5 linked regions of the Homo sapiens genome follow. The protein of the gene in region 3 purifies or fractionates together with the protein of the main gene of each other region. This does not show direct contact. Each region holds a gene or a part of one and is shown on either strand. Other genes may lie near its edges. The genes, in order: MINPP1, BPNT2, EFNA5, NBAS and UTP20.

What was found.
Region 1: the proteins of EFNA5 (region 3) and MINPP1 purify together in Homo sapiens (affinity purification with mass spectrometry; one large-scale study listed by BioGRID and IntAct). This does not show direct contact.
Region 2: the proteins of EFNA5 (region 3) and BPNT2 purify together in Homo sapiens (affinity purification with mass spectrometry; one large-scale study listed by BioGRID and IntAct). This does not show direct contact.
Region 4: the proteins of EFNA5 (region 3) and NBAS purify together in Homo sapiens (affinity purification with mass spectrometry; one large-scale study listed by BioGRID and IntAct). This does not show direct contact.
Region 5: the proteins of EFNA5 (region 3) and UTP20 purify together in Homo sapiens (affinity purification with mass spectrometry; one large-scale study listed by BioGRID and IntAct). This does not show direct contact.

The regions. Positions count from the first base shown.
Region 1 is NC_000010.11:87,503,472-87,507,697, reverse strand, and holds the start of MINPP1 (multiple inositol polyphosphate phosphatase 1 isoform 1 precursor), read right to left. Parts: upstream 2,806-4,226; 5' UTR 2,783-2,805; coding exon 2,146-2,782; intron 1-2,145. UniProt on the Homo sapiens protein: Multiple inositol polyphosphate phosphatase that hydrolyzes 1D-myo-inositol 1,3,4,5,6-pentakisphosphate (InsP5[2OH]) and 1D-myo-inositol hexakisphosphate (InsP6) to a range of less phosphorylated inositol phosphates.
Region 2 is NC_000008.11:56,991,055-56,995,362, forward strand, and holds the start of BPNT2 (Golgi-resident adenosine 3',5'-bisphosphate 3'-phosphatase), read right to left. Parts: upstream 2,814-4,308; 5' UTR 2,532-2,813; coding exon 2,145-2,531; intron 1-2,144. UniProt on the Homo sapiens protein: Exhibits 3'-nucleotidase activity toward adenosine 3',5'-bisphosphate (PAP), namely hydrolyzes adenosine 3',5'-bisphosphate into adenosine 5'-monophosphate (AMP) and a phosphate.
Region 3 is NC_000005.10:107,384,438-107,387,952, forward strand, and holds part of EFNA5 (ephrin-A5 isoform 1 precursor), read right to left. Parts: intron 3,335-3,515; coding exon 3,269-3,334; intron 2,879-3,268; coding exon 2,798-2,878; intron 1-2,797. UniProt on the Homo sapiens protein: Cell surface GPI-bound ligand for Eph receptors, a family of receptor tyrosine kinases which are crucial for migration, repulsion and adhesion during neuronal, vascular and epithelial development.
Region 4 is NC_000002.12:15,274,821-15,278,335, forward strand, and holds part of NBAS (NBAS subunit of NRZ tethering complex), read right to left. Parts: intron 2,282-3,515; coding exon 2,031-2,281; intron 999-2,030; coding exon 664-998; intron 1-663. UniProt on the Homo sapiens protein: Involved in Golgi-to-endoplasmic reticulum (ER) retrograde transport; the function is proposed to depend on its association in the NRZ complex which is believed to play a role in SNARE assembly at the ER. Required for normal embryonic development.
Region 5 is NC_000012.12:101,293,602-101,297,116, reverse strand, and holds part of UTP20 (small subunit processome component 20 homolog), read right to left. Parts: intron 1,638-3,515; coding exon 1,459-1,637; intron 1-1,458. UniProt on the Homo sapiens protein: Part of the small subunit (SSU) processome, first precursor of the small eukaryotic ribosomal subunit.

The sequences.
Region 1 (4,226 bases), on a different chromosome or scaffold from region 3:
ATTGGAGAAGCATTCATAATCATGCTTCAACTACTGGTGTGCCCTTTACGTTTTTTTCAGTCATATTCAAAACACACATTTTTCAATCATTTCTCCAACAATTTACCACGAAAAGAACACCAAGTATATCATTTTTGTACATAAAATATGAGAAAATTGAATATAGTTTTATCTGGGCTTTGGATGTGTATGCAAAAAAAATCAGTATGTATGTTTGTTTCTCTTGAAATGGATAATTCTGCCCACTTTGTCAACTGGATTGCAATTCTTAAGAAAATATCTTGACTAGGAAAATAAGCGAACTTTGTCACCTTTTTTCTGTGTACACTAAAATATAATTTCCCAAGTGCATCTGGGTATTTTATCCTTGTTACTATCTAATTATTGCTAGTCTTTAAACAAAAACAAAGGCATTGTTCTGTTTCTACAAAACTACAAATCTAATTCAGCAGACTCCCTCAAAAGACCAGATGTACATAATAGGCAAAACTATTGTCTATAGAGAATAATAAAGTGGCTAGGCAAAGGGTTTGCTATCTGACACTGAAAACGGTCAGGAGTGGGCTTATTCTGAACTGTAGTATTTTCATCCCTGGCTCTGTACTGAGAGTCAAATGCCAGTCTTCGCAATGCCATCTGAGAACAAAAATTCACTTGTTCCAGGAAGTCGCTATAGATATTGTGTTATATTAAAATATGTTCTGCTTTCACCATTCTGTTAATTTAACAGATTTATGAGGAATTTTCACTCATGCTAATGGAAAAAGTATATATTTAAAAAAAAACACAGTTCAACAAGTAATTAGACACAAGTCAGCTAACTGAATTACCCACAATAACATGACACAGAATCAGTGGAGAAATCCCTTACAGATGGTTTCACTGTTCAACAGCTACAGAAGAAATTACAAACCAGCCTACTTCTAATTTTTCACTTGGGCTTTGAAGCTAAACAATAATCCTCACTTCAATTCTGGCCTTAAAAGTGATCAAGAAACTATTAATGCTTGCTCATCTCTGTGGTACAAAAATGTTACATGTTTTTATTCTTATTAGGTATGTTATTGGACAAATGGAGGCAGTATAGCATAATGGCTAAGAAAGCAAGCTCTGAATCAGATTTCCTGGGTCCACAGCTAGCTGTATGAAAATGGGCAAATTATTTAATGTGTTCGTGTATCAATTTCCTCATCTTTGAGATAAGGGGAAAATACTATCAACTCCAGATTGTGGTTGTAAGGATTTTGTAAAATAAATGTGAGGCATACCTGGCATACAATAGGCATGAGGTGTATGCTATCATTATTATTTGTAACTATTACAACATTTTCTAAGAGAAAAAGAACCATTCTAGGAAAACAGAAGACTTGGATACTAGACCTTAGAGAAAGACAATTAAGAAGGCATACTCTTGGGCTCGGGTTCTTCACCTGTGAAATAACGGGGCCTTACTAGATGATTTCTCAAATTTCGAAAAAGTGTAATTAATGGAATAAATGAGTTGTTACTGCTTGTGACCACGGACCACAGCTACAACGATGGGAACGCTACAGTAAAAACATGAACAAAACAGAAGAAAAAAGGAGGACACAAAGGCTTGAGATCAGGTTCCTAAAACAGGGTGTAGGTCTAAAACTGTCATCTGAAAAAGATGATGAGTTTAAAAAAAAAAAAAAAGAAAGAAGGAAAAACTAGTATCGGAAGCAAAGCCCGAGGAAGAAAATTCTAGATTCTGTTTTTTAAAACGTGCGCCCAATTGTGAAACTAGACGCCAGGGAAGGGGGAAGGGATGGGTTGGCGCTCGAAGGGGCAATTCAGTTTGGGAACGGGAGCGCAAAAATTGCGGGAGACCTCGTCTGTCCCCTTTCCTGTTGGATCCCCAACTCTACTAAAGCAGGCAGCGAGTACAAGGTGCTGAATTTACACCTGATGAATTAATAAATGAACATACGTGTAAGGGGAAAAAGAGATAGCCAAGTCTGTAATATCCCTCGACAGGGAGGACGTAGCCCGAGGGATGATGGCTTGGGAAAAGAGGAAAGAGAACTGGGGGGCATCGGAAAAGCCCAGGGTCTGGGGGAGGCGGGAGAGCATCCAGGGCGGGTGGGAGGACCGGGACAGCACACGGGCCGCCCGGGGGGTCACCTGCGACGTCCGGCGGCGGCAAGCCAGGGTGGTAGTGCTGCCACAGCCCCTGCAGGAAGGCGGCGCTGCTATCCATGCAGCGGTGCTTGGAACTGGTGATGAGCCGCAGGCGGCCGTAGTTCTCACGGCTGAAAAGGGCCGGGAAGAGCGAGGCCAGACGCAGCGCCAGCTGTCGCATATCCTGCCGTCCCTTCTCTACTAGCTGCCCGTCCATCCAGTCCGCGTACCACAAAGGCCAGTCGGCCAGCGCTGCACCCAGGTCGCGGCTGCCGGTACTACTAGCCCCGCCATCCCTGGACCCGCGGGCCTGCAGCAACCCGTGCAGCTGCCTCAGCTTGCGGATCTGTTTGACCGTGGGGTAGCGGGTGCCGTGGCGAATGAGGGCGACCAGCTGCACCGGGGTGCAGGTCCCCTCCAGCAGCTCAGGGTCCCGCCACGGAGCCTCGGGGCCCGACAATAGCACGGGGTTGACATCCTCGTAGCGAGTCTTGGTGCCGAAATAGGGGCTGAGCGACGAGGCCACCGGGTCCCTCGGCTCTAGAAGAGAGCAGCGCGCAAGCGACGAGAGCAGCGCCGCAGCCAGGGCCGCGGCAGGCGCTACGGAGGTCCGGAGGAGGCAGCCGGGCGCGCGTAGCATCGTCGGGACGGTCAGTGGAGTGCGCCGAGCCAGCTGCAGATGCCCAGCTTCCGGCTCCGGAGGGCAGGGGGCGGGTCTGGAGGGCGCTTCCGGCCGGCGGCCCTCGGGATGCGCTTCGCTGTTCTCTAGGAGGTACCAACCTCTGGCGGTGGGTCTTGCGTCCCGGCGGAAAGCTCCGAGGAGTCCTGTAGACTTGTGGCTCGGGTGGAGCCGGCGGAAAACCCCGAGAAGCTTGAGACAGCCGTGGCTGAGGTGGAGCCGGCGTCGCTGCCCTGGAGCGTGGGCGAGTTTCCTCTTAGCCGGAGCTTCAGGGATTGACTCAAAGACTCCTCCGCTTTTTTAGTTGTTTTGGGTGTGAATACAGCCCGGACTAAACCTTAGTCGCCTAGACTAAACCTTAGCCTCCCAGGCTGCCAAAACAGCACAGCTTTTACAGATGACTCTTACATCACCATCCCTACTCTGTGATACTGTGTTTTTCAAAGTTTAGTGCCTGAACCATCAGCATGAAATCTGCCTGAGACGGTTGTTGAAAATTCACATCGCTGGGCCTTGCGGCAGGATGCCTCTTGAAGCCCAAGGTTTTTGTTTCGTTTTTTTCCATTTGAGTTTGAAAATAAACAGGATACAGTAAAGCAGAGAACTTGGAAAGGGGCTTACATTCTGCAGGAATTTAAGTCCTGAATCTTTGGTATAATCTTGACCTGGACTACCAGAGCTAACGCCGACATCAGTGAGACAGCACCCTAAAAGTTCTGTGCTTGTTGTTCCCGAAGGCTTAGCGAGTAGAGACATAGCAATCTAGAGAATTTGGGTGCATTGAGTCATGGCCCAACAGATTTACTCTATTATTAAGTATGAGCTAATCTGCTTTGCGAAGCAAACATGCTCTGTATTTACCACCACTCCAGATCCATACGTTCCTCCCATGTACTTACTTACATACTCAAATCAAAAGCTGGGTTTTTTAATAGGTTATTGCTCAGAATCTTTGACCCCAAAAATCATAAGTCTGAACAATACCTTGTTTTTTCCCACTTGAACTCCAGTTTATTTGCCAGCTGGGGAAATAATAAGTATTACAGAAGTCGTACGGTGATCCAGATTTAAGGAAATTGGGACCACGTTTTCATTAAGTTAGCTTTTGCTTCAAAGACACTATTACATTGCTCTTTATAAGCCCATCACCATCTTTACTCCTTTTCTCTTTAAGTGTCTCCTTGGTTTAGAGAGGTGTTCCTCTAAGTTTAGGCGTGCCTCTAAATGTTAACCAAGAAGAAACGGGGCCAGCCTATGAATGCTGAAAATTTGGAGACGTTCTGTGCAGGAAACCATCTTTAGGGCAACAGATGTTCTTTTCGATATGCTATTTTGTAGCATGTCAATGCCTGAATATTCATGGTCAGTGATATTTTTGTAGAACTTTGCTCAAATTAGCATTTAG
Region 2 (4,308 bases), on a different chromosome or scaffold from region 3:
CTGGGCATTAGGAGAGGGGAAGGCAAAAAAGGAGAAAGACTCCTTTTAGGTTGATTCTCCACTTAGTTGGCTACAATATTTGGCCTCTAGCCTATAACACAGGGGTATAAGGAGATCGCTCAACATGACACCATCCCTACTTTGACACTGTATAAATGATCACAAACCTCTTCTATTCCTTCAGTCATGACCCAACATGAATACTACAGAAGCACATGCAAACATTCAAATAGTCACAAGAAAACAAGAAGTTGTTTTATATTAAGCCAGAGACTTCAACATCTGCAATTCCAAAAGCTTAGCTTTTATGTTAATAAAATGCAGCTCACTGCCCTTGGCAGCCATTCCCTTATTGTTTGCTAATAAATGAGAATGCACACACATACAGATGTGTTTTCAACATTTAAGATACTTTTGTTTTTACTTAAAAAAAGAAAAATCAACTCTGCTTGCTGTATTTCACTATTACTGCTTTTAAGCTTCTACAATTATAAGTTTTAAATAGCCTTCTAAAAATCTAGCTAAAATGTGGGATAGTTCATATAAGCTGGAGTGTCACGAGCCTCAGATTTCCCGTTTGTATAGTAGGCAGAAATAAAATTTACTTCTTAAAGTTGCTGTTAAGGATCAAATGAAGTCCTGTGTAGCCAGTATTTGGGCATGTAAAATATATTCAATAAATGGTTATTATTAGTACTGTTATAACCATTAAATAGCAACTTCTCTGAATCTCCTGTTTCCTCTATAAATTCTTGGGGAAGGAAACACGTATGTTTTGGAAAGGGGGTAAAATATTTCATAAACACACCTTACATCTAGATGCAAAAAAATTTAAGTATTATTTGTGATGATAAAAACAGAGTAGGGAAGAAGAAAAAGTGGAAATATTCTGTGTTTTAAGTAGAAATTTGAAAAAAAAAATTCTAACGTTAATTACATCTGGTATCCAGTAGCTCATGTTAGGAAATACAATGTTCCTTTCCACTGGAAAAAGAAAAAGACGAAAGAAAAGGGAGGAAGAGAGGAGAATAAAAAACAAAACCAAAGCAATATTATGATAGACTGGAAGAAGCCTTATGCAAAATACATAACTAAACAATGACAATATTCTCCTAACTCTTTCAAGATCAGCAGTAAAAGGTCAGTCACCTTCCAAAGAAGCCTGGGTTTGCACATCACTGTTTATCTAATAAAATTCCAGTGAAGACAATTTTTCTTCCCAGTAGCCAAAACTACAGTTAGGTGAGTTAAGATATACGTTAATAAGGTGCTGCTACGCTATGCTGAGCTCTTCCTCAACAAAATTTGCAGTTTCTGGAACTGCAAATTTTAAATATGCTTTATTCAACTCAATAGCAGCTCCAGTGAAATGATGAATTCAAAAAGTATTAATAACAAATCCAAAATGTCTGGATTTCCTTAAGAAAATGTCAACTCCCTTCCCAGAAACCTACCCAAAGAAAAGCCAAATGTTATTTAATTCTTATTCTCTGGAGTAAATATGGATCTTTAATCAAGGGCCAGGTAGGACCAACAGCTGGTATATTTCTAAGTACCTCCTTAAAGGGCCCGCAAACTATAAACTTTAGAGCGTCCTGACAAAAAGACAGCGAAATGAGCATACTCATCCCCCACCCCCCCACCCCGACTCCCGCGAGCGCACACACGCACACACAAATGCCCCGCACACTAACAGCTCTGCAACAAGACTCGGTCTTTCAGCTGGCTACTGGCAGGCCACCCAGAAAATGTGTACTCCAGTTTCGACCCTTCTAGGGATGAAATCAAGGAAGGATAGAGAGTCTTGGTGGATTTTAGCCAACCCCTTAATTCTACAGAGGAGCCTGAAGCTGCGGGTGCAATTAACTTTGTCAGCCTTTTCGTTTCAAGGCCTTCTGATCCCAGGTACACACGGCGCACACCCGACCCAGGACGAGCCAAAAGGGCACGGGCCCTGAGTCAGACTACGTGCAACCTCACCCAGCTCCTCTGCTGTCTGTCTGACCTTGTGCACGTTAACTTCTGCGTCTCAATTTCCACATCTACAAAATGGAACCAGAAGCTCCACATCCCATACTGTTAAGAGTCGACGGGCCGAGACGCGCTACCCGGCTCGAGTGGGCGCTCCGCCCGTGGGCTCCCACCTGGACGCTGGGGAAGGCGGTCTTGAGCAGGTAGAACATCTTGCGGTTGGACAGCACGTCGCCGCTGGTCATCTTGTCCTCGGCTCCCTCGCGCGTCTTCCCCTTGGACTTCTCGTGGAGGACGTTGCTCTCGCGGACGCGCCTCACCTCGTCGCCGCCGCGGACTGCGGCCAGCACTGACACAGCCAGCATCTCGCGCAAGTCCACGGTGCCCCCATCGGCCGCGGCCGCGGGCCCCGCCGCGCCGCCGCCAGGCTCGCCGCCCAGGCCGAAGAGGCTGAAGCGGCCGGCCAAGAAGCCCGAGTAGAGGTGGTAGAGCACGCCGAGCCCCAGCAGGCAAAACACTGCCACCCCCAGTGGGGAAAGGCGGATGCCCATGGGGGCCATGGCGTGGGAAGCCGGGCGCTCCGGGCTGCGGCTCTCACAGGCCTCCAGCGCCCGCCGCCGCCGCCGCCGCAGCCGCCGCGCTCCGGGCCAGGCGCCGCGCGGGCTACACTGGCGCCCGCTCCCCGGCCCCGGTGCGCCCCATCACTCCCTCCCAGGAAAGGCCGAGTTGCGCCGCGAAGACCACCAACGCCGCCCCGCGCGCCTGACTCGCCAGGCAGCGCGCTCTAGGTTCTTCCGCCGGCCGGCTGGTCCGACTTCCACGTTAGCCTACGGCCGCGAGGTGAAAGGGGAGCGTGGGTGTGTATCCGGGTTACGCGACGGGGCGGGGCGAGGGCGAGGGCGAGGGGCGGGGAGAGCTGGGCACCTCCCCTTGGGGCGGGGCGGGGCGGGACAGGAGGCGCTGGACTGAGCTGCCTTCCTTGGTCTGGGTGGGAAGGTATTCCTGGAAGTGGCGAGCAGCAATCCGCACAGGACAGTGTGCTGTGCTGAGTGCCTTGTGGGTGTTTAAATTAAATATCCCATTGTACGACTATGGCTGGCTGTAATAAACCCACAGTAACAGTCTAGTCTTCTCATCACTCTCAGATTATTGAGGAATGGAGGAAAACACAATAAACCATTTTAAAAGATTGATTTGCAAGCTTTTTTAGCCAGCGGGGGTGTAGACAGCCTGTACCTTTAAGTCGCTTCTCCGCGCTCTTCCCGGCAGGACGGGGAACTGGGCGGTGAGGGGAAGAATTGTACTTGGCTCTTCATTCTGTTGACATCTTTGTCGTGCCCTAAATGCTTATGTGTGTATAGAGTTTCTCTCCTCCACCTGCCAGAATAAACCATCCTCGAAGCAGCTGAAAAACATGCCTTGATCCGGGTTTTTCATAATGAAAGAAAGCAAACCAGGCTTCTCTCATTTCCAAGGGTACTCGAGCCTGGCTCTCCTACCAGAGCTTAAGAAGAGGAATTGCTTGACAGAGTCCACTTAAAATAGAGGTTATCCGGAGATGGTCAGTCTAGAACATGTAATCTTTGAGTCAGCGTAGGCTCTCGAAGTATTTTGACAGAAATAACTACCTTCTACTATAACACCGATCTTAGCTAGAATGATAGTGAATACTTTATAAGTATTCATGAGTTTATCTTTAATCTTAAAAGTGAATATTAAGATGTATAGTATTGTTCTTAAATGTTAAAATATCTATATAAATCAACTTAAAATGTAGCCTGTTTTACTGTTCATAGCAAAACAGCATTGGTTTTAAGTGGACTTTAGAATTAACCACCTGAAAAACTGCAAGTATACCAAACTTCTAAACATCCATTGCTAAGCAAGTCATGTAGAGCCTGACCTTTACCGCTTACTTAGAGTTCAGGGCATCCCTAGAATTTGCATGTGATTATACACATACAACAAAAGCACTGCCAGATTATACACATACAACAAAAGCACTGTGATTTCCCTGCCAGAATCACAGCACAAAATCAAGTACAAATACAAATCAGTGAAAGAACAATCCCTAGAGTATTGACAGCACCAGAACTTAAAGAACTAGCATTGCCTTTCTTGTCAGCTTTTGAGAGTAACTTTGCAATGAAGCAAAGCTGCTTTCAAATATCTAAAAGTGAATGTCACAGAGTAATTCTCAAAACCCATCCCAGGGATAAAGATAAACATCAGGGTTGAAATATAAAGGTTTAAGTTAAACAGAACCACCCCAACCTACACTATGACAGCAGCAAAAAGATGAGTTGGATAGTAATCATGTCAATATTAAAAGCATCA
Region 3 (3,515 bases):
ACAAATACATTCCAAAGACAGGTGAATTAGTACACATCGCTGAGATCATGCAGTGGAATCCTTTCAGACTTGCTGGGTTCATAAAGACTGGGTCTACACCCAGAGCTGGGGAAAGGTAAATACCCTTTCACTCAGTGGCTCGACACAGTGGTGAAGAACTGCAAATCCAACTAGACTTTCTCTCTCTTCTTAGAGACAGAATCTTGCTCTGTCACCCAGGATGGAGCACAGTGGCGTGATCATAGCTCACTGTAGCCTCGAACTCCTGGGCTTAAGCAATCCTCCCACTTCAGTCTCCCAAGTAACTGAGACTAAAGGCACACACACCACATTTTTTTTTTTTTTTTTTTTTTTTTGGTAAAGACAAGGTTTCACAGTGTTGTCCAGGTTGGTCTCAAACTCTTAGCCTCAAGCAATCCACCCATCTCAGCCTCTCAAATTGCTGGGATTATAGGTGTGAGGCACAGTGCCTCACACCTGTAAGAAACACATTTCTTATTGTTTTCTTATTGCCAGGAATTGTGGTTCAACCTTGTCTCACTTTGTTAGTGAAGATACTCACCAGCAAGCCCTTAAAATATAGCTCTGACTGACTCAAGGAGCTTTTCCTGCATGTACACCTACGCTCTACTCCCCAGCACACGTATGCACACACTGAACTACATTCTGCCAAACTTTTGCAAACTTCCAGCAGTTATATGTCCATCAATTTTGGGCCATTGTGCATTTTAAATGCTTAGTGAAAAAAAACCTTGTTTCCCCAAAGACAGTGGTATATGTTCATGTATGAAAGCATCTCAATATCTTGCATTGTATCGTTAGTGGAATTCAAAGGTAATTTTCCTAATGGCAGAATAGTCCTCCATGTGCCTCTTCATTACCAGAGAAAAATATGCAATCTGTTAGGTGTCTAAGCAGCCTCCTATGCTATAGACAGGCAGTGGAGATTCCCTGGAAAAAAAACCATGGGAAAGATATGCCTACATTCTGCACAATGTGTATCAAGAGATCATAATCCTGGGTAATTTTTGTTTAGAACATGCTGGTCATTCTTCTCGTGGCTTCTTAACAAAGACAAGAGACTTAAGTCCTCTTTATGAACATACCTCTAATAATGGTAAGAGACCACTACTTTGATACTAATGTTGGAATAGGAGTCAGAAGATCTGAGTATTAAACCTGGATCTACCTAATCAGCAATGTGGCATGGGTGAGTCTCCTCAGCCATAGAAGGAAGAGTGTAGAGTCTGGGGTTGTTAAGGGAGATACTGAGTAACTTGCAGATCCTCTGGTGGCCCAAGTCCCTGAGCTTGTGAGGACTCTGGTACCTTAAGAAGCCAAAGTCATGGCTCCAGATTTCCAGGACACAATTAAAATGCCTTCATGTCAGCATTCATTCCTTAAAACTTTCTAAAGCAGCTAACTGATCCCTGGGGAGCCACTAAGACCTCGGAGAGCTCATTGTACACACCTCTCATTTGCGCTCTGGGTGAGATGCCTGCCTTAGAAAACAAGAATGCTTCAGGGAAAAAACTCTAACTCTTCCTGTCAGTTTTAACAGGAAAGCTATTGTATGTCCTGAGGCACAGCATTTACTCAGGGTAAGTTTCCCTAAGGTTCATTGACTATGCAGTCCTGGTTACAATATTGGAGGAAAAAGTGGACCTTAATGTCCGTTAGTTTCTAGGACCATAAGGAAGAGAAATTCTACAAAAAAAAAAAAAAAAAAAAAAATTCTCCATTTACATAAGGGGGCTCAAATCTCTCCATGAAGAGGAAATAATTTTATTTCCCTTAAGCTTTGAGATGATCAAGGGAGATGGGTAAGGAAACCAGTGAAGATCTGGAGCAGGTCGGGGAGAAGAGGACACCACAGAGGAAGGAAACACACAGGGCCTCCAGGCACACCCCTCCATAAGCAGTTGGTAGAGGGCGACCACTCCTCTCAGTTAATCTAGTTTTATTAAATGGCCAGACTGAATTGATAACCGAATGGATATTTACAGGTTCTTATTATCCATAGTATGCGACAGACTAATGCCTCAACGAGTGCTTTGGTAGGTTTTATTTTTCTTTAGTTATGGGAAACATTAGGAGTGTGGAAGTCAATCGTAGAAAAGTTTTATTTATCCTTAAAACTTATTTTGCCTCGGTAATCAAGGATCACATTTGGCTCAACAGGCTACTGGTACATTTGTGGCACAAGAGATGTGCGAATTTGTGGTGGCAATGTGATTATACTTCTCCAGACCAATTACTATTGACAATAGCAAAAATATTTAAATAAAATAAAGTTCCTTAGGTCAGTTCAATGATGCATGTAAATTTCTAGAGAAAACTAAGTATGTTGAATTAGTTTCTATTTTGTGCAATAGTCTTATTACTTTTATCTACAGATTTGGACATAAAAAATAAAATTTTATGAACATATACATAGAAATGTTTTGTGTCTTACATGAAAACAGATCCTTTAATATTCACAGTGATTCACCAGCATGCTCTGAGGATATGGTAAAAGGCAGTGAGATTTTAGCATTCCGATGGGGCTTCTATATTAGGATACTGCATTAGCTCAAACCCATTCCAAAAAAGAAAATTTTATTTTACCTAACATGCATTGCACAAAGATACTGGAGGAATGAGGTAGAATATAAGTCATATTAGCATCGCTAGCAATGAGCAAAAGCAGAACAACAACTATAACATGCAAACATGCAGAGAAGAAGAAAGGAAAAAAATACGGAAGCACCAGAGAAATAGATGCATTTGTTAAAAGAGATTCTCTAAGCATACTAACCTGCTGGTTCTAATGAATTTTCTACTTTGTCGTTAACATCGAAAACACGATCATGAACACCTATAGTTTTCATACAGCTATCTATAACAAAAATAGAGATAACAGCCAAATATGTTAGTGAAGACACCCTTAAACTCCCATTTCTTTCTTTTTTCTTTCTCTCCTTTTTTTCTTTTTTTATGTAGATTGTCTTACAATCAATGGCATGTTCCAAATGCCAATATTGTTCCCATTTGCTCTGCATGTACAACAGTCTAAGAAACAACAAGTTAGCAACTGCTGTGTACTTAAGTAAAAGCATCATGAAGAATGAGAAAAAATATGATGAAAACTAAAATATGAATGTTGATATACAAAACAGATACCACACAAGATTTAACAGTAAAAAAAAGTTTTACCGCCGTGAACCAGACCACACAATAAAGCATGCGCGGTGAAGCCACCCTCTGAAGCTCATTCTAGTGAACTTACTTGTTGGTCTCACAAAGACTTTGAGCTTTAGACAGGACCTTCTTCCATTATCTGGGATTGCAGAGGCTGTGGGTAACACAGAGAGAGAGCAGGAAAGAAAGAAGAGAACAACAACATATTACTCTTCATTTTCACATACAAATGATGAACAATAAATTCTTTCCTGACTTGAACAACAGGAACTTTCTCTAATTCCTCCTCCAAATTAAAACAAACAGTACTTTTCAGGTCTCACTGCTATAGAAAG
Region 4 (3,515 bases), on a different chromosome or scaffold from region 3:
GTGGCATGATCTCAGCTCACTCCAACCTCCGTTTCGTAGGTTCAAGCAATTCTCCTGCCTCAGCCTCCCGAGTAGCTGGGACTACAGGTGCATACCACCACACCCAGGTAATTTTTTTTTTTTTGGTTTTTTTTTTTCTTCTAGTAGAGATGGGATTTCACCATATTGGCCAGGCTGGTCTCAAACTCCTGATCTCAGGTAATCTGCCTGCCTTGGCCTCCCAAAGTGCTGGGATTACAGGCTTGAGCCGCTATGCCCGGCCAATAACTTTTTTAAAGACTCAGGCTAACCCAAGCTAAGTTGTTAGCCTGGTTTCCGAATGCAGGTAATCTGGGCTGGGCACTGGAGCTCCTTTACATTTGTCAACTGGAAAGAACAGAATGGCATATTTACTATAAAGTGACATGAGAACTGTAACATGTACTAAGTATACGTGTAAATGAGAATAGTCATCTCTATTTTAGCATATTTGTACATCTACAATAGAGAAAAAAAATTTCCTAATTAAAACACCTCATTCACAGCAAATGAACAAAAACTTTTTAAAAAGCCAACATGTAATTATTTTCAAGAAAGGAAACAAAAATAAAATCTACAGAATGTAGGAGAAATTTTCATTTCTTCTACTGTGCTCAAACCACTTTAAAATATCTTTTTGTTTACCTTGGTCACAGCTTTTGGAGAAAATGTAACTGCATCTACCACAGTGATGAGGTCACCTGGGTGGAGACGATCAAAGTACTTCATGCAGACATCATAGGCATGAAGCCACTCCGGTGAAGAGCCTGGGACTTGTTTAATGAGATGAGGGTCTCCAGTCCAGAACAACTTCTGTAACCAGATGGTGTACAGAGAGCTTGGGGAAAGCATCTGTCCATCCTTTTCAGGGATTTTGGGAACAAGTTTGGAAATAGACAAGATATTTTGACTTGAAAGAACTGGCTCCAATGCTTCAAGAGGACTCATGTTTTCATCTGTCAGCTTTTTGTAATTAAGACCTAGCAGAAAAAAAAAGAAAGTAGGTAAGTGGTTCATTCCAATGTAAACATAGAGTCACTTTCAAACACACACACATAGCCCTCTATATGTCTGAACGCAAAGATCTATCAACTTAGCTCTAAGTAGCTAGTTTATATTTTCTATTAGAAAGATCAGGAGATCTGAGTTCCAGTCACAGCCTGAAACTTATTCGGCTTTGTGATCCCAGATAGGCCATTCATCTTCTGTGTGCCTCCATCTCCTTGTTTGTACCCTAGAGATGACAATATCTCCATGCCTTTCGAATCCGCCGCAGCACCTATGTTTTCTTCTATCAGTGCTTCAACAAACTGCATTACATTTCTTTGTTATTTATCTGGCATTTCACTAGTTACTTGAAGGCAAGGATTGAATCTTATTCCCTTATCCTCTGTGTCTAGGCCAGTGTCTCATTTGATTATTCAGAAAACAACTGATAAACTGATGGGAACTCTCACAATTATTATGAATATCAAACAAACAGATTTGAATGTGCCTTGCAAATTATGAAGTATAAAAATTAAGAGGTCTTAAAGTGTTTAATTTCTTAGTTATGAGCATAAAGACCATTCTAAAGATTTCCATAATTTATCAAATATTCAAAGGCTCTTAAGTGTTCCATGCATATTTTAAACATATAGGCTCCAGTGGAATGAAATTCTGCTCAACTGCCTATTATAAAGTGTCTTGGCCTTGCCATTTATATACATAAAATATAATCAATGGGAGTAGTGAAAAAATCCTGGAGCAGAAGTCCAAAACTTTGGATTTTAGTACCAAGTCTACCATAAGTCACTGTGCGACTTTCAATAGGTTTCTTACTTTTTCTGGTATTTAATTCCCTCAACTATAAGTGAAAGAGTTGGAAAGATAATAACTAAAGTCGATTAGCTTCAAAATTCTGTGGTTTCAGAGCTCTGCAACCATAATGCATGAACAGGATTGTGTACAGAAAATTAATCCCCAGATTTAATTGAAAAGAATGAATTCAAGCAGGGAAACAACCATCCTACCTGATGCAACAACCTTAAACTTCTTCAGCAGTCGAATGTGGGTTTCTGGTTTAATGGCACAGTTCCCCAAATCTGCACAGCCACAGTTTTCCAGAAGAGTGAAATAATACTGCAGCCTTTCGTGATCAAAGCCACCAATAGTAGGGTAAATATACTTGACCATGTGCTGGTGAAAGGCTTCTGGATCAGTCTTCAAAGTCTCAAAGAGATGAAGGTCTTGGGCTCTATTTTCAATTTCTAGTGTGGACAAACTGAAATTAAGAGCCAAAGGAACTGTGTTAAGATTTTGTTCCTTTATTAAAGTGATTTTTTTTTTAACCAAGGAAGAAACACTACTTCTTATAGCTCCCTTCTTCCTGCCTACTCAAAGACAGTAAACCACCACCAGAAGCCAGTCAGCCTGAATAAAGGAAAACAAATGTGTTAGATGCCTACTAACATTTAACTGACTACACACTCGTCATGTTATCTCACGGGGGTCTACAGCAACCCTGTGAAGTAGCTTTAACTTCAAGTTCCTGCAGTTGGGAGAGCTGTCTGATGTCTCCCAGCTAGAAAATAAACCAACATCTGTCAGCGTCCACTCTTAATCATTTATTCATTCATAAAAAGGGTTTAAAAATCTATACTTCTTCACAGAAACATAAACAGCCTTATTATTTCAGGAATTTAGGAAATGATACAGAAAAAACCCTAAACTTTCAGGCTTAAGATTTACATGCAAGAGTCTTGAATTAATATTCAATAAACCCAAATTTTATGCTGTGTCCAGATAAAAGAAAAATAGAAAAAGAGGGATAATTAAACTTTCACTTGGGTTATCTGCAGTAATGCTACTTAAATAAAACACATATCTTAATATTTTCATCCTAACTTAGATGTCTTTGTAATCTAATTTTAAAAAGTCACTTAAACTCTTGGGAAAAGAAAAAGTAAGGTATTTTTGCTTGGTTGATTGGTTTGTGCTTTTAGAAGGGGAAAGGAGGGGGTTAATTTTGGTCTTGTGCTTCTCCCTGGACAGAATCTGGACAGAGCCTGTGGTCTAGTGTAATCTCAATGCCCCTTACGTGATGAGTTTCATACTCCCTAATTGTAAGAGTCCTTCAGGCAGCCCTGCATTCACAGAAGTACCCAGGTTCTAGGGTTCTCGGAAGCAGCAACAGAAGCATCTGGGGGCAGTAAGTGAGACCTTGGGCAGCAACAAAGTTAGGCTTCAAAAAGTTCTAAAGCAGCTCCTCTGAAACATGACAACTTGTTTACTGAAAGTGCCCAAAGACATGTTTTTGGTTTATGTAGATAAAGTTAGTATAAATCATGTTTTAAAACTTTCAGGGGAATGTGACAACACTTGGGTTAAAAAGGGTAATCTACAAAGTCAAAGCATCAAGTAATTTTTAAAAACTGGTCTTTTTACTTTTGCTTCAAGAAAAACCTTATTTTTCCATTAAGACACAGTGCAAACATTTACAAGAATATCTCTATCTA
Region 5 (3,515 bases), on a different chromosome or scaffold from region 3:
CCTCCATGGATGTTTCAAAGTCGAGTATTCAGCACAAACTCAAGGAATGCCCATCAATTCCGCCTCAAAGCAAACCAAAAACACAACAACGGGTCTAACTACTCCAAGAGAAATAAGAAGATTAAGTATAAAAACAAAGGAATGACAAGGGAACTGGTTTCCTAAGCTACAGTTTCTAGAAGCATACCCACTTAACTATTTGAGAAATGATACAATAAATCTTCTCATGTATGTAAATAAGCTTTGTTTTTAACTTCTAAACAATGTGTCATTTTGAATGAAATTAAGAAAGTAATCCATGACACTTAACAACTGAAACAATACAAAGGTATATAATTTTTATTTTTATTTTATTTTATTTTATTTTTTGAGATAGAGTCTTGCTCTGTCGCCCAGGCTGGAGTGCAGTGGCATGATTTCGGCTCACTGCAACCTCTACCTCCTGGGTTCACGCCATTCTCCTGCCTCAGCCTCCTCAGTACCTAGGACTACAGGCGCCCGCTACCACACCCACCTAATTTTTTGTATTTTTCTTTTTTTTTTTTTGAGATGAAGTCTCGCTCTGTCGTGCAGGCTGGAGGGCAGTGGCGTGATCTCGGCTCACTGCAAGCTCCACCTCCCGGGTTCACGCCATTCTCCTGCCTCAGCCTCCCGAGTAACTAGGACTACAGGCGTCCGCCACCACGCCTGGCTAATTTTTTGTATTTTTAATAGAGACAGGGTTTCACCGTGTTAGCCAGGATGGTCTCGATCTCCTGACCTCGTGATCTGCCCTCCTCGGCCTCCCAAAGTGCTGGGATTACAGGCGTGAGCCACCGCGCCTGGCCAGGAGTGTGGTTATTAAAAGGTAGCATGAGGAATCCTCGTGGTGAGGGAACAGTTCCAGATATTCACTCTGGTGGTGGTTACAAATCAACACAGGATAAAACTACATATGACTATATATCTATATAAGTATACACACTCAGATGAGTGCACATACAACTGATGATATCTGATAAGATTGATGGATTGCACCAATGTCAATTCTACAGTTGTGATATCGCAGTATGCTCATGCAAGATGTACCAATGGAGTAATCTGAGTGAAGAGTATACGAAACCTCTCTGTACTATTTCTTGCAACTGCACGTGAATCTACAATAACTTTAAAATAAATGGTTAAAAAATTAAGTCACCTCTGTCTTTCCCTTACCATCCTTCTGATTAAACAAAGTTAACAAGTTTCTGTATCCTTCCACATGTTTTTCTATGTTCATACACACTTTTTGCTTTACCTTGCAAAATGAGATCATACTATACGTACTATGTGTGTAGCTCTACAACTTGCTTTTTTCACACAACTTATCATGGACATCTTTCCTGTTACATATAGATCATTTTTTTACAGTATTCTTGATACATTACATTTAAATGGGTAAACTTATCATCATTACAGGAATAAAAAGTTAGAACTCACCCCACCATCTGCGGTGAGAAAACCAGAGGGTACTTTTCAATTGCCATCGAGCCAGCAGTGGGAGGTGCTGCTTTGTTCAGAATGAGCTTGGCCAGAATGGCCAGAGCTTCATCTTTGACTACAGCATCATCAATTAAGAAGCAATTCACAATATATGACAGAAAGCTTGGTAGAAAAAGCTAAAGTTAAGAAAAAAAAAATCACACTTATTAACAGATATAATAAAGAGAAGATGCTAACAATTCAAAAAACTAGACCAAAAACAAAGGATCAAGAATCACAATGGCATTAGACCTCTACATAGGAACAATGGAAACTAAAGACTGTGCAGCCATGTCTTAAAACTCTGAGGAAGGATGACTTAGAATCTAGAATTCTATACCCTGTCTACTAATAATGCAGTGTCAGGAGAGAATAAAGACATTTTCAGATGTATTAAATCTCAATATTTTATCTCCATGAACCCTCCCTACCCCCAGGAAATTATGAAAAATAAATTCCACCAAAATTAGAGACTAAACTATAAGAAGAAGAGAACACGGAACCCAGGAAACAAGAGAGAAGCAAAAGGAAGTCCCAGTACAACATTTGTGCACTGGGCAGAGAAAGCAATGCATTTAGACTGGACTTGCTCCAGGAGAAATGTCTCCAAGAAAGAAGAAAAAGAAAAATTGAGCTGCTAAATTATCTGACAGTTTTGTCATGTGAAGGACATTTATAAAGCTGCTGGAAGACAGACTCTTTGGCCAGCCATTCAAAGAAAACAATTTCCAGTTTTTAAAGAACGAGGCAATTATAAACTCTAAGAAAAATGAGGCCAGGTGTGGTGGCTCATGCCTGTAATCCCAACACTTTGGGAGGCCGAGGCAGGCAGATCATCTGAGGTCAGGAGTTAAGAGACCAGCCTGGCCAACATGGTAAAACCCCGTCTCTACTAAAAATACAAAAATTAGCCAGGCGTGGGGGCACATGACTGTAATCCCAGCTACTCAGGAGCCTGAAGCAGGAGAATCACTTGAACCCGGAGGGTGGAGGTTGCAGTAAGCAGAGATGGCACCACTACACTCCAGCCTGGGTGACAGAGTGAGACTATGTCTCGACAAAAAAAAAAAAAAAAGAAAAACGAGAATGTATACAAAAAGGTCATATAATCATAAAATACTCCTTGTTTATATAAGTATGTGGTGAATATGGATTCAACCAAAATTTCTAATATAATTCTATTGGGAGCATGAGAGGTATAAAGGAACTAAAGTCCATCTGCCATAGGAGGAAGTCTACACATGAGAACCAAAACTAGCAAACCAAGGTAAAGCAGTATATTCAGATGATTTAAAAGTATAAAGTAAATATAAGAAAAAAATAGCTGGCCGAGGCAGGCAGATCACAAGGTCAGGAGATCAAGACCATCCTGGCTAACATGGTGAAACCCCATCTCCACTAAAAATACAAAAAATCAGCCAGGCGTGGTGGTGGGTGCCTGTAGTCCCAGCTACTTGGGAGGCTGAGGCAGGAGAATGGCATGAACCTGGGAGGCAGAGGTTGCAGTGAGCCGAGATCATGCCACTGCACTCCAGCCTGGGCGACAGAGTGAGACTCCGTCTCTAAAAAAAAAGAAGAAAGAAAAGAAAAAAAATAGCTAAAAATCATTAGACCCGATGGCTGCTAATAAGATGGGAGCAGAAAACAAATGACTGCCATTTAACCTGGTTTGTCTTCCTAAACTACAGACGTGTAAGCAGTATTTGGATAAAAATAAGATTAAAAAAAAATAAAAAGACCAAAGGGAACACGGGAGAAAGGAAAAATGCAGTTGTTAAACAGAGCAAGATGAAGAGTCTTCCTGGGGCAGAAAGAAACAGATCTTGGACAGGTACAAAAGTGTTCTTTTTAGGCAAATGAGAATATATAGTATTAAAGGCTAAAAGGAAGAATATTGAGAGGACAGATACAGAGATATGTTTCCATGATGTATACTGTAGGGTTACTAGTTAGGAGGAGGGCCAAGTGTTTGATGAGAAGGAAGAGAAAAAAATAAAATAAATTCAGGATTAGAT